2 linked regions of the Homo sapiens genome follow. The protein of the gene in region 1 interacts with the protein of each later gene in a pairwise test. Each region holds a gene or a part of one and is shown on either strand. Other genes may lie near its edges.

Evidence for each region.
Region 2: the proteins of GMFG (region 1) and VANGL1 interact in a two-hybrid assay, tested with the Homo sapiens proteins (one large-scale study listed by BioGRID and IntAct).

The regions. Positions count from the first base shown.
Region 1 is NC_000019.10:39,332,588-39,338,469, reverse strand, and holds the start of GMFG (glia maturation factor gamma), read left to right. Parts: upstream 1-2,426; 5' UTR 2,427-2,493; coding exon 2,494-2,496; intron 2,497-2,915; exon of another isoform or gene 2,916-2,938; coding exon 2,939-3,035; intron 3,036-3,159; coding exon 3,160-3,209; intron 3,210-5,343; coding exon 5,344-5,393; intron 5,394-5,882.
Region 2 is NC_000001.11:115,682,485-115,686,997, reverse strand, and holds part of VANGL1 (vang-like protein 1), read right to left. Parts: coding exon 4,501-4,513; intron 3,055-4,500; coding exon 2,922-3,054; intron 1,706-2,921; coding exon 1,471-1,705; intron 1-1,470.

The sequences.
Region 1 (5,882 bases):
TGAGAATTGACCATTAGATCCAGCACCGTGGAGTGCATGGGTGACCTTGACAAGGGCATGTCAGCTGAGAGGAATACAGGTGAAAGGCTGATTGGAGAAGGCAGAAGAGAAAACTGGGAGGAGAAATTGGAGGCAGCAATGTAGATTATTCTTTTGAGAAATCTTTTTTTTTTTTTTGAGAAGGAGTCTCACTCTGTCACCCAGGCTAGAGTGCAGTGGCGCAATCTTGGCTCACTGCAAGCTCCGCCTCCTGGGTTCACGCCATTCTCCTGCCTCATCCTCCTGAGTAACTGGGACTACAGGCACCTGCCACCACGCCCGGCTAATTTTTTGTATTTTTAGTAGAGACGGGGTTTCACCTTGTTAGCCAGGATGGTCTCGATCTCCTGACCTCGTGATCCACCCGCCTTGGCCTCCCAAAGTGCTGGGATTACAGGCATGAGCCACCACGCCCGGCCTCTTTTGAGAAATCTTGCAGAAAAGGGAAGGAAATGAGTGAGCAGCAGCTGGACAGGAGATACAGTTTTATGTTTTTAAGATGGAAGAGGCCAGACACAGTGACTCACGCCTGTAATCCCTGCACACCAGGAGGCTGAGGCAGGAGGATCGCTTGAGGCCAGGAGTTTGAGGCCAGCCTGGGCCACATAGCGAGATCCTGTCTCTATAAAAATCAAAAGTAAAATTGGCCAGGCATGGTGTTGCGTGCCTATAGTCCCAGCTACCTAGGAGGCCAAGGTGGGAAGGTGGCTTGAGCCCAGGAGTTGGAGACTGCAGTGAGCCATGATTACACCGCTGCACTCCAGCCTGGGTAACAGAATGAGACCCTGTCTCAAAATAAAAGAAAAAAAGAAAAGAAAAAAATTAAGATGGAAGAAGTAACACTGCATGGAGGCTAAGGAGAAAGATCCAGGAGGCATGGGGACGTTGGTGAGACAAGAGGGAGAGAGAGGACAGCTGCAGAGATGTAGGTGAAGGGGTAGAGTCCAGTGTAGGGTCCGGGGTTTGCCCACCATGGAGGGAAGTGGGCCAGTCACAGTTGGCCTAGGACCCTGTGGAAATTGTCTTTTGTTTGCTTTTATCTTCTCACTGAAATACATATGGTTTTTGTGTGAACTACATTCCTTTTATTTCTTCTTTATATGACAGTCAGGACATTATATTGATTTTTTTTTGAATTTATGTGTGTAAGTAGGTTATATTATCTAGGAATTTTATTTCGGGATGGGAAAAGGGGGCAGTGCAAAAATACTCAATAAAAAAAATAGCCGGGCATGGTGGCTCACAGTGGCTCACACCTGGAATCCCAGCACTTTCGGAGGCTGAGGCAGGTGGATCATTTGAGGTCAGGAGTTCGAGACCAACATGGCCAACATGGTGAAACCCCATCTCTACTAAAAATACAAAAATTAGCCGGGCGTAGTGGCACGTGCCTGTAGTCCCAGCTACTTGGGAGGCTGAGGCCGGAGAATGGCTTGAACCTGGGAGGCGGAGGTTGCAGTGAGCTGAGATCGCACCACTGCACTCCAGCCTGGGCGACAGAGTGAGACCCTGTCTCAAAAAAAAAAAATTGGGTACCGGTCTGACGGGATTGAACTCCCTTGTTGTAGGGCCTCATAGGTCATTGCAAGGCTAGTGAGGTTGGAAAAGTGCAGGAAAAAAGTCACCATTACCCAGGCACTGTGGGGTTGCCCCTCTGGTCCCCATTTTGCCATTGACATAATGGGCGTCAGTCTGACCAGCAAAAGACTAAACTCCCCTTTTCCAGCCCTGCAATTCAAATATCCCAGATGGGGGTAAATCTAGGAAGGCCACCTGGAGGAGGGGAGGAGCAAAATAGTTCGTTTTTAGTACCTATTGTGTCTGCCATGCTGGCAGCTATGTGAAGCTATTTATTTATTTATTTTTATTTATTTGTATTTTTATTGCCTGGGATAGAGTGCAATGATGTGATCTTGGCTCACTGCAACCTCTGCTGCTCGGATTCAAGCAATTCTTGTGCCTCAGACTCCCGAGTAGCTGGGATCACAGGCGTGCACCACCATGCCAGGCTAATATTTTGTATTTTTAGTAGAGATGGGGTTTTGCCATGTTGGTCAGGCTGGTCTCCAACTCCTGACCTCAGGTGATCCGCCCGCCTCGGCCTCCCAAAGTGCTGGCATTACAGGTGTGAGCCACCATGCCCGGCCGATGTGAAGCTATTTATATCCTCACCACAATCTCAAATCAGAGGGGTGAAGTTACTTAGCTAGGGTCACACAGCAAGGAAGCTTTGGAACCCTGGTCTGAGCGATTTCCTGACAGGTCCTGGCAGATGAGGGGAAGGAAGGAGGGGGAGGAGCCCTCTGTGACAGTTGTCCCAGAAAGGGCATAAACAGGATGTGGTGTTGGATGAAACCTTCCTCCTACTGCACAGCCCGCCCCCCTACAGCCCCGGTCCCCACGCCTAGAAGACAGCGGAACTAAGAAAAGAAGAGGCCTGTGGACAGAACAATCATGGTCAGGGGCCAGGGGTTCTATGGGAAGAGCTGGGGCTGGGGTTGGGGCTGGGGCTTGGAGGACACCTGGGCGAAGGTCAGGCTATGGGATGGAGGTCACGGGCCGGGAAGGGGGCCCAACTGTGGTGAACAGCCCGGCTGGAAGAACAGAGAGACAGTGGCTCTGGGTTTAGGCTCAGGAAGTGGATCTCTGCACCTCCTTGAGTGTCCCCCAAGAGTCCCCGTGGAGAAGGCGGGAACCCAGCCTCTGCTCCGCCCCCCAAGCTGAGTGCCCTGGTGAGGGGTATCTACTCTGTGGGAAGGGTGCCTTTTCTCAATGTTCACAAAGGCATCAGATGGGCCGGCGCGATGCTCCTCTTCATTAGTGGATGGAGAAACAGGTTTGGGGAAGGGGTGAGGGCTGAGGCCAGGCCATTTCAGCTCTTCCTGGGTCCCTCCGGCAGTCTGACTCCCTGGTGGTGTGCGAGGTAGACCCAGAGCTAACAGAAAAGCTGAGGAAATTCCGCTTCCGAAAAGAGACAGACAATGCAGCCATCATAAGTGAGTGACATCTTCCCCCACAGAAGGATGGGAGGGCGGTGGTGAGGGCAGATAGGGAGGGCTGGGCTTGTGTCCCCCATGGATCAGGGGGAGTGTCTAATCCCTGTGTGCCACCCCTCCCCAGTGAAGGTGGACAAAGACCGGCAGATGGTGGTGCTGGAGGAAGAATTTCAGGTGATGGGCTGGGGTGATTGGGACTGGGAGGTACAGGGTGAGACTGGGAGAACCAAGTGGTTGGAACTGATATGAAGAGCCTGGCATGGGGGTAGAAAGACCTGGAGATTGGCCGAGCACAGTGGCTCATGCCTGTAATCCCAGCACTTTGGGAGGCCGAGGCAGGTGGATCACCTGAGGTTGGGAGTTCAAGACCAGCCTGGCAAACATGGTGAAACCCCATCTGTACTAAAAATATAAAAAGTTAGCTAGGCATGGTGGTGGGCACCTGTAATCACAGCTACTTGGGAGGCCGAGGCAGGAGAATCGCTGGAACCCGGGAGATGGAGGCTGTAGTGAGCCGAGATTGTGCCACTACACTTCAGTCTGAACCACAGAGCAAGACTCTGTCTCAAAAACAAAAACAAAAAACAAAAAAACAAAAAACCCTGGAGATCAAGTTCTAGCTCACTCATGACCCCCAGCAAGAGACTTTGCCTGTTTGTGTCTCTATTTCCTCATCTGTGAAATGGGGAGAATAGTACTTATCTCATAGGCTTGTTTTTACATCCAGTGATTTAATTCTTGTAATGGGTTTAGAACAAGGCCTGGCACTTAGTATGTGCTCAATAAGGTGATGATGATCTTAATAATGATGATAATAATGCTTTATTGGCATTTAAATGAAAGAGTTTCCATATAAGTTAAAAAGCTAGCCAGGCATGGTGGCTCATGCCTGTAATCCCAGCGCTTTGGGAGGCTGAGGCAGGAGGATCACTTGAGCCCAGGAGTTTAAGACCAGCCTGGGCAACATGGTAACACCCTAACTCTACTAAAAATACAAAAATTAGCCAAGCACAGTGGTGTGCACCTGTGATCTCAGCTACACAGGAGGCTGAGGTGGGAGGGTTGCTTGAGGCTGGGAGTTTTGAGACCAACCTGGGCAACAAAGCAAGACCCCATCTCGGCTGGGTGCCGTGGCTCACGCCTGTAATCTCAGCACTTTGGGAGGCTGAGGCGGGCGGATCACAAGGTCAGGAGATCGAGACCATCCTGGCTAACATGGTGAAACCCCGTCTCTACTAAAAATTCAAAAAATTAGCTGGGTGTGGTGGCGGGTGCCTGTAGTCCCAGCTACTCGGGAGGCTGAGGCAGGAGAATGGCGTGAACCCCGGAGGCGGAGCTTGCAGTGAGCCAAGATCGTGCCACTGCACTCCAGCCTGGGCGACAGACTCTGTCTCAAAAAAAAAAAAAAAAAAAAAAAGACTCCATCTCTACAAAAAAAAAAAAGGGGGTAGACCTCACCCCCCTGGTGGCCTCACTGTCTTTATCAATAACAAGAATGATAATAAGGCTTATTTCTCTAGTGTTGCGATAAGGATTTATAAGGGAATCCATGGAGACTGGGGGCTGGGGCTCTCTCAGGCCCTCTGAAAGGCAGTATAGTGAAGCAGTTATGATTCGAACCCAGATTCAAATCTCAACTCTGCTGCTTTCTATCTGTGCAATCTTGGGCAAATGCCTTAACACCTCTGGGCCTCAGTTTTCTCAGCTGTATAGTGGGCATAATGATGGGACCTACCCCACAGACTTACGGGATAGTTGCATGAATTAATCCATGTGTGTTTCATAGAACGATGCCTTGGCACATGGTAAGTGCTCACCTAAAGGTGGTCATTCTTTTTTTTTTTTTTTTTTTTGAGACGGAGTTTCGATCTTTTTTGCTCAGGCTGGAGTGCTATGGCACAATCTTGATTCACTGCAACCTCCGCCTCCCGGGTTCAAGCAATTCTCCTGCCTCAGCCTCCTGAACACGCCTGGCTAATTTTTTTGTTGGAAATGGAGTCTCACTCTGTCTCCCAGGCTGGAGTGCAGTGGCGCGATCTCGGCTCACTGCAACCTCTGCATCCCGGATTCAAGCAATTCTCCTGCCTCAGCCTCTCGAGTAGCTGGGACTACAGGTGCATGCCACCATGCCTGGCTAATTTTCTGTATTTTTAGTAGAGACGGGTTTCACCCTGTTAGCCAGGATGGTCTGAATGATTTCCTGACCTTGTGATCCGCCTGCCTCGGCCTCCCAAAGTGCTGGGATTACAGGTGTGAGCCACTGCGCCCTGCCTCATTCTTTGTCTTTTCTTCTGTTTTCTTGCCTCAGAACATTTCCCCAGAGGAGCTCAAAATGGAGTTGCCGGAGAGACAGCCCAGGTATCCTGGGGGAAGAAAGGGTTGGATCAGGCCATGAGGGGAGGGGTGATGTTGGAGGTATAGGCTAAGGGACTGCTGGAGTTCCAGCCCTATTCATGGACTTTGAATCTCTGTGTTTGGCCGAGTGAGGTGGCTCATCCCTGTAATCCCAGCACTTTGGGAGGTCAAGGAGGGTGGATCACTTGAGGTCAGGAGTTCAAGACTAGCCTGACCAACATGGTGAAATCCCGTCTCTACTAAAAATACAAAAATTAACTGGGCGTGGTGGCATGTGACTGTAATCCCAGCTACTTGGGAGGCTGAGGCACGAGAATCGCTTGAACCTGGCAGGCAGAGGCTGCAGTGAGCTGAGATCACACCACTGCACTCCAGCCTGGGTGACACAGCGAGACTCTATCTCAAAAAAAAAAAAAAAAAAAAGAATCTCTGTGTTTGAGGCCAAGAGTTCATACTCTAGAACTTTTTGTTTGTATAGCAATATTTTATTGC
Region 2 (4,513 bases), on another chromosome or scaffold:
AATGTTACACATGTACCACATGCCAAGCTCATCTACTCTCTACCATGCGATTTACATGCCTTGTTGCCATATTCAATGTAATTCTTACACAACAACCCTGTCAGAGAGATATTATTATTATCCTCATTGATACAACAGTAAACAAGTGTAGAGGAACTGAAAGAGTTAATTCACGTGATGTGCTTAAAACAGTACCTGTCATATGAAGAGGCCAGACTAAATTGCTATTATTATTATTGGTAAAAATAATGCTATGGCTTTGTCAGGCATTTTGGGTGTTACAGAGTCAGTTTTACCAAACGGTCTTTTAGATTACAGTATTTAGCACACTTTTAGGGATATTACAAGAAACAGCCATATATCTAATAGAGGGTAGAGTAATTTGTGCACAGTCACAAAACAATTAAGTGGTGGAGCCAGGATTTGAACCCACTTCTCTGTAGAGAAGTCATTTGCTGTATCTTTACTCTAGTTTGCCTCCTTGGCCACAACTCTCTATTAGATACATGGCTGTTTCTTGTAACACTTCTTAAAGTGTCCTAAATATCATAATCTAAAAGACCACTCAGTAAAACTAATTCTGTAACACCCAAAATGCCTGATGGCATTTTTTTTTTTTTTTTTTTTGGACGGAGTCTCGCTCTGTCGCCCAGGCTGGAGTGCAGTGGTGCGATCTTGGCTCACTGCAAGCTCTGCCTCCTGGGTTCACGCCATTCTATTTTTTACCAATAAATAGAGCTATTTAGTCCATCCTCATCATATGACAGGTACTGTTTCAAGCACTTCACATGAATTAACTGTTTCAGTTCCTCTACACTTGTTTGCTGTTGTATCAATGAGGATAATAATAATATCTCTCTGACAGGGTTGTTGTGTAAGAATTACATTGAATATGGCAACAAGGCATGTAAATCGCATGGTAGAGAGTAGATGAGCTTGGCATGTGGTACACGTGTAACATTTGGTAGCTGTTTTTTATAAGGACCTCTGTTTATATGTTGCACTATATGTGTATCCTGCTCTTTCAGTTCCCAAAACATACAAATGAGATAGTTATTAGTATTATCCTAACCAATTAACAGGTTAGGAAACTGAGGCACAGAGCTATTGCCATCTGCCCAAGGTTATGCATCTAGTTGGTGGAGGAGCCAGGTTAGAATGAATCAGTTCAGCTCCAGAGTCCACAATGCACCCCTAATCACTATTCCATACTGTCTCCAATCACTATTCCATACTGTCCTCCAAGCGAAATTCTCTCCTCTGTTAGAATCCAGAGGCCTTCGAAAGGCACATTTAAAAAAACAATTGTACTAACATAACATAAAATAAGTGAGAATCACTAATTCTTATTACTTGAGTTTTAGAGATGCCTTTCGATTTTATCACTTCTAGTAACACGCTATAATTCAACTGGCCAAGCTCAGTGACAAGCCAGGATGACGGTGGCAGAGCCCGCCCGGAGCAGCGCACCTTGGGGGTCATGCCGTTGGTGATGCAGAAGGCCAGGTGCTGCAGGATGCTCTCCATGCTGTGGTAGTTCTGCTGCCGGGTGATGCGCAGGTACTTCTGGAGAGCCCTGGCCATGGAGGGGAAAATGGCCTGGGCGGCCTCCCTAGGGTCCATCACCTCCCCTGGGGCTTTCTGCTGCTCCTCAGCCTGGAGACGCTGAATGTGGATGAAGGCCTCTTCCACTGCAACCACCAGCCTAGAAGGTGATGCAACACTAAGTAATCAGGATGGTGCCTGCCACAGGGTGTGAGAACAGAATGACGCTTGTCTACCCTGCTGCGGCCCAACCTGCCAACATACCCAAGGCCCAATCACGCTGCTTGCATCCTTAGCTGTCCCTCAGAGAGTGGAGAGGGAGGAAGGGAGAAAGAAAGGCAACAGCAAAAATAACATGTGGAACAGGGGCCCCAGGGGTTGGGGGAAAGGAGCCCCAGGACTGGGAGATGAACTCTGTTCTGAATTCTGCCACCAATGAGCTTGGGAAATGCACTAGTCCTTTTTTCATCTCTGCAATGGTTAGATGAAAAGAGTTCTGAGGCCCCTCCGACTGGCTATAAAAGGCTCTGTACAGAGAGAGGTGGCTGGTGGTGCAGAAGCAGCCCTACAAAGAAGCAGAGCTGCGTGCTCCCTGGTCCAGCCACCCACACCAGCAGCCCCTGGGAAACAGGAAGAGGCACAGCACACATGATGGAATGCACCTCTGTCCCCTTCAGTGAATATGACCTGACGGTGAACACCAGCAAGGGTCCAGGGGTGCAGAACAGACCCACTCAAGTATGGGCTGGGGGCCAGGAGCATCAGCATCACGCAGGAATCTGTTAGAAATGCCATTTCTTGGGCCCAACTCCACACCTATTGGGTAGGGTCTCTGCAAGCAGGGCCCAGAACCTGCTGCCTGTATTTGAACAGCCCTCCCAGTGATATTCATACAGGCTTCAGTTTGAGAAACACTGGAGCAAGGTGCACTCCAAAGGTGTCCCAGCAGGTCATGTTTTTAAACAGAAACCTCATTCTAGTGGTAAGAAAGGAAAGATTGAAAGTCTACAAGAGGCCGGGCATGGTGGCTCATGCCTGTAATCACAGTACTTTGGGAGGCTGAGACAGGCACATCACTCGAGGTCAGGAGTTTGAGACCAGTCTGGCCAACATAGCGAAACCCCATCTCTACTAAAAATACCAAATATTAGCCGGGCGTGGTGGTGGGCGCCTGTGATCGCAGCTATTTGGGAGGCTGAGGCATGAGAATCACTGGAACCTGGGAGGCAGAGGTGACAGTGAGCCAAGATCTTGCCACTGCACTCCAGCCTGGGCAACAGAGTGAGATTCTGTCTCTAAATAAATAAATAAATAAATAAATAAAATAAAAATTTAAAAGTCTGTAAGAGGGTACTGGCATCAGGAGGGCAGTATACCTTGCTTTCCGCTTCTTTACTCGCCGTTCATGTTCGGCCTCTTCATAATACAACTCGTTGTGGCTTGAGTCCCTGCGCCGAGCAGCTGCAGCAATCATGGCCCGGGACTGGCCAGTGGCATTGTTACTGGGGCCTTTGGGGAAAGGACAGTGAAAGAATAGTGTTAATACCACGAGGGTGGGAAACAGAGCAGAAAACTAGTACCCAATCTGTCAGTGTTGTCTACCCACCCCCTATGGAACACACACACACAAATCCTAAAGGTCACTTCCCAGGAGGGTGAACTGTGCCCCGGCTCCACATTCACTATGTCCAAAGCAAGGGAGCAGAGGAATCTCCCTAAACCCCAATCTGGTCAGTGGAAATGGAAAAAGAACTCAGAAGGGCATGAAGAACGGTGGCAATTAAAATGTTGGCCAAAAACAACACATAGAGTGTGCTGAAGATGTTACCATCTGTTACATAAAGTTTCAGTTTGGCCATAAGGGCGGCTGGGACATCAAATTTCAGCAAGACAATGAGACAGAATGAGAGGGATGGGGAGACCAAGGACAGACAGACAGACAGACAAAAAAGAAAGTCAAAGGACATGAGACACTGAGTCTACAATGGAAAGCAAGCTATGCTAGAATGTCATGGCAGCCACAACTTTTCTAGGAAATACCAATGCTTGAGGGTGTGCAACGTGACCCGTTAATGAATACAGACTCAGAAGTCCTGTCCTGTCCCCTGACCACTGACCACCTTAACTTTTCAGAAACATAGGCAGATTTCAGGCTTTCTTACGGATGATCTACTTGGCTGGTGACTTGGTTTCACTAGTGGGAATCTTTCCTAAGTTTTTAGATCACAGGTGAAATTTATCAATCCTTCAGGCTTCGTGAGGGAGCTCACACCTCATATAGCCAAAAAAAAATGAACAAACAAATAACTGAAAGGATATTGCCAACAAAAACTGACACTGTATATAAATCACTTGACTTGTTGAAAATATAATCCTCTCCTAGGGTTTGCAAAGTTCTTGCCCTCACCCAACATACCCAGGAAGAAATGACACCGCATCCTGTTTCTTGCACTTAACCATGTGATACCCTGAAACATAGCTTGGACTTACCCAGCCTGGCCTCCAGCCTCCTGCCACCCACTCAACTCCGGCTCCTAGCCACGAGTAAGAAGTGCCCGCAGGTATCTCACCAGATGCCTGGACTACTGAGATTTCTAGTCTTAATGATTTAGGTAGCTTTCTGAGTTTGTGGGTAATGTGCACCAATTTTGAAAAGCAACCCTTTCCTAACAGCTTCCAATATAAGATGATCCTGGCAGAAGGCAGGAAACACACACCGCTGCTGTTTTCAATCATAAAATCCCAAAATGAACAGGCTTCCAACACAGGTAGATGGTAAATCAACATTCCTCTAAACATGTGTCTGCCTACATAAAAAAGAGAAATTGTTCTGAAACAAGAATGTACCATAAAGGTAGGCCCAGAGAAGAAGTCGAACCAAACGTACCATGAATCTTAAATAGTCACCCAACTGTGCCCCTGTGAGCACCACGGACACCCTTTCAAGGCACATACCATCTACATTGTA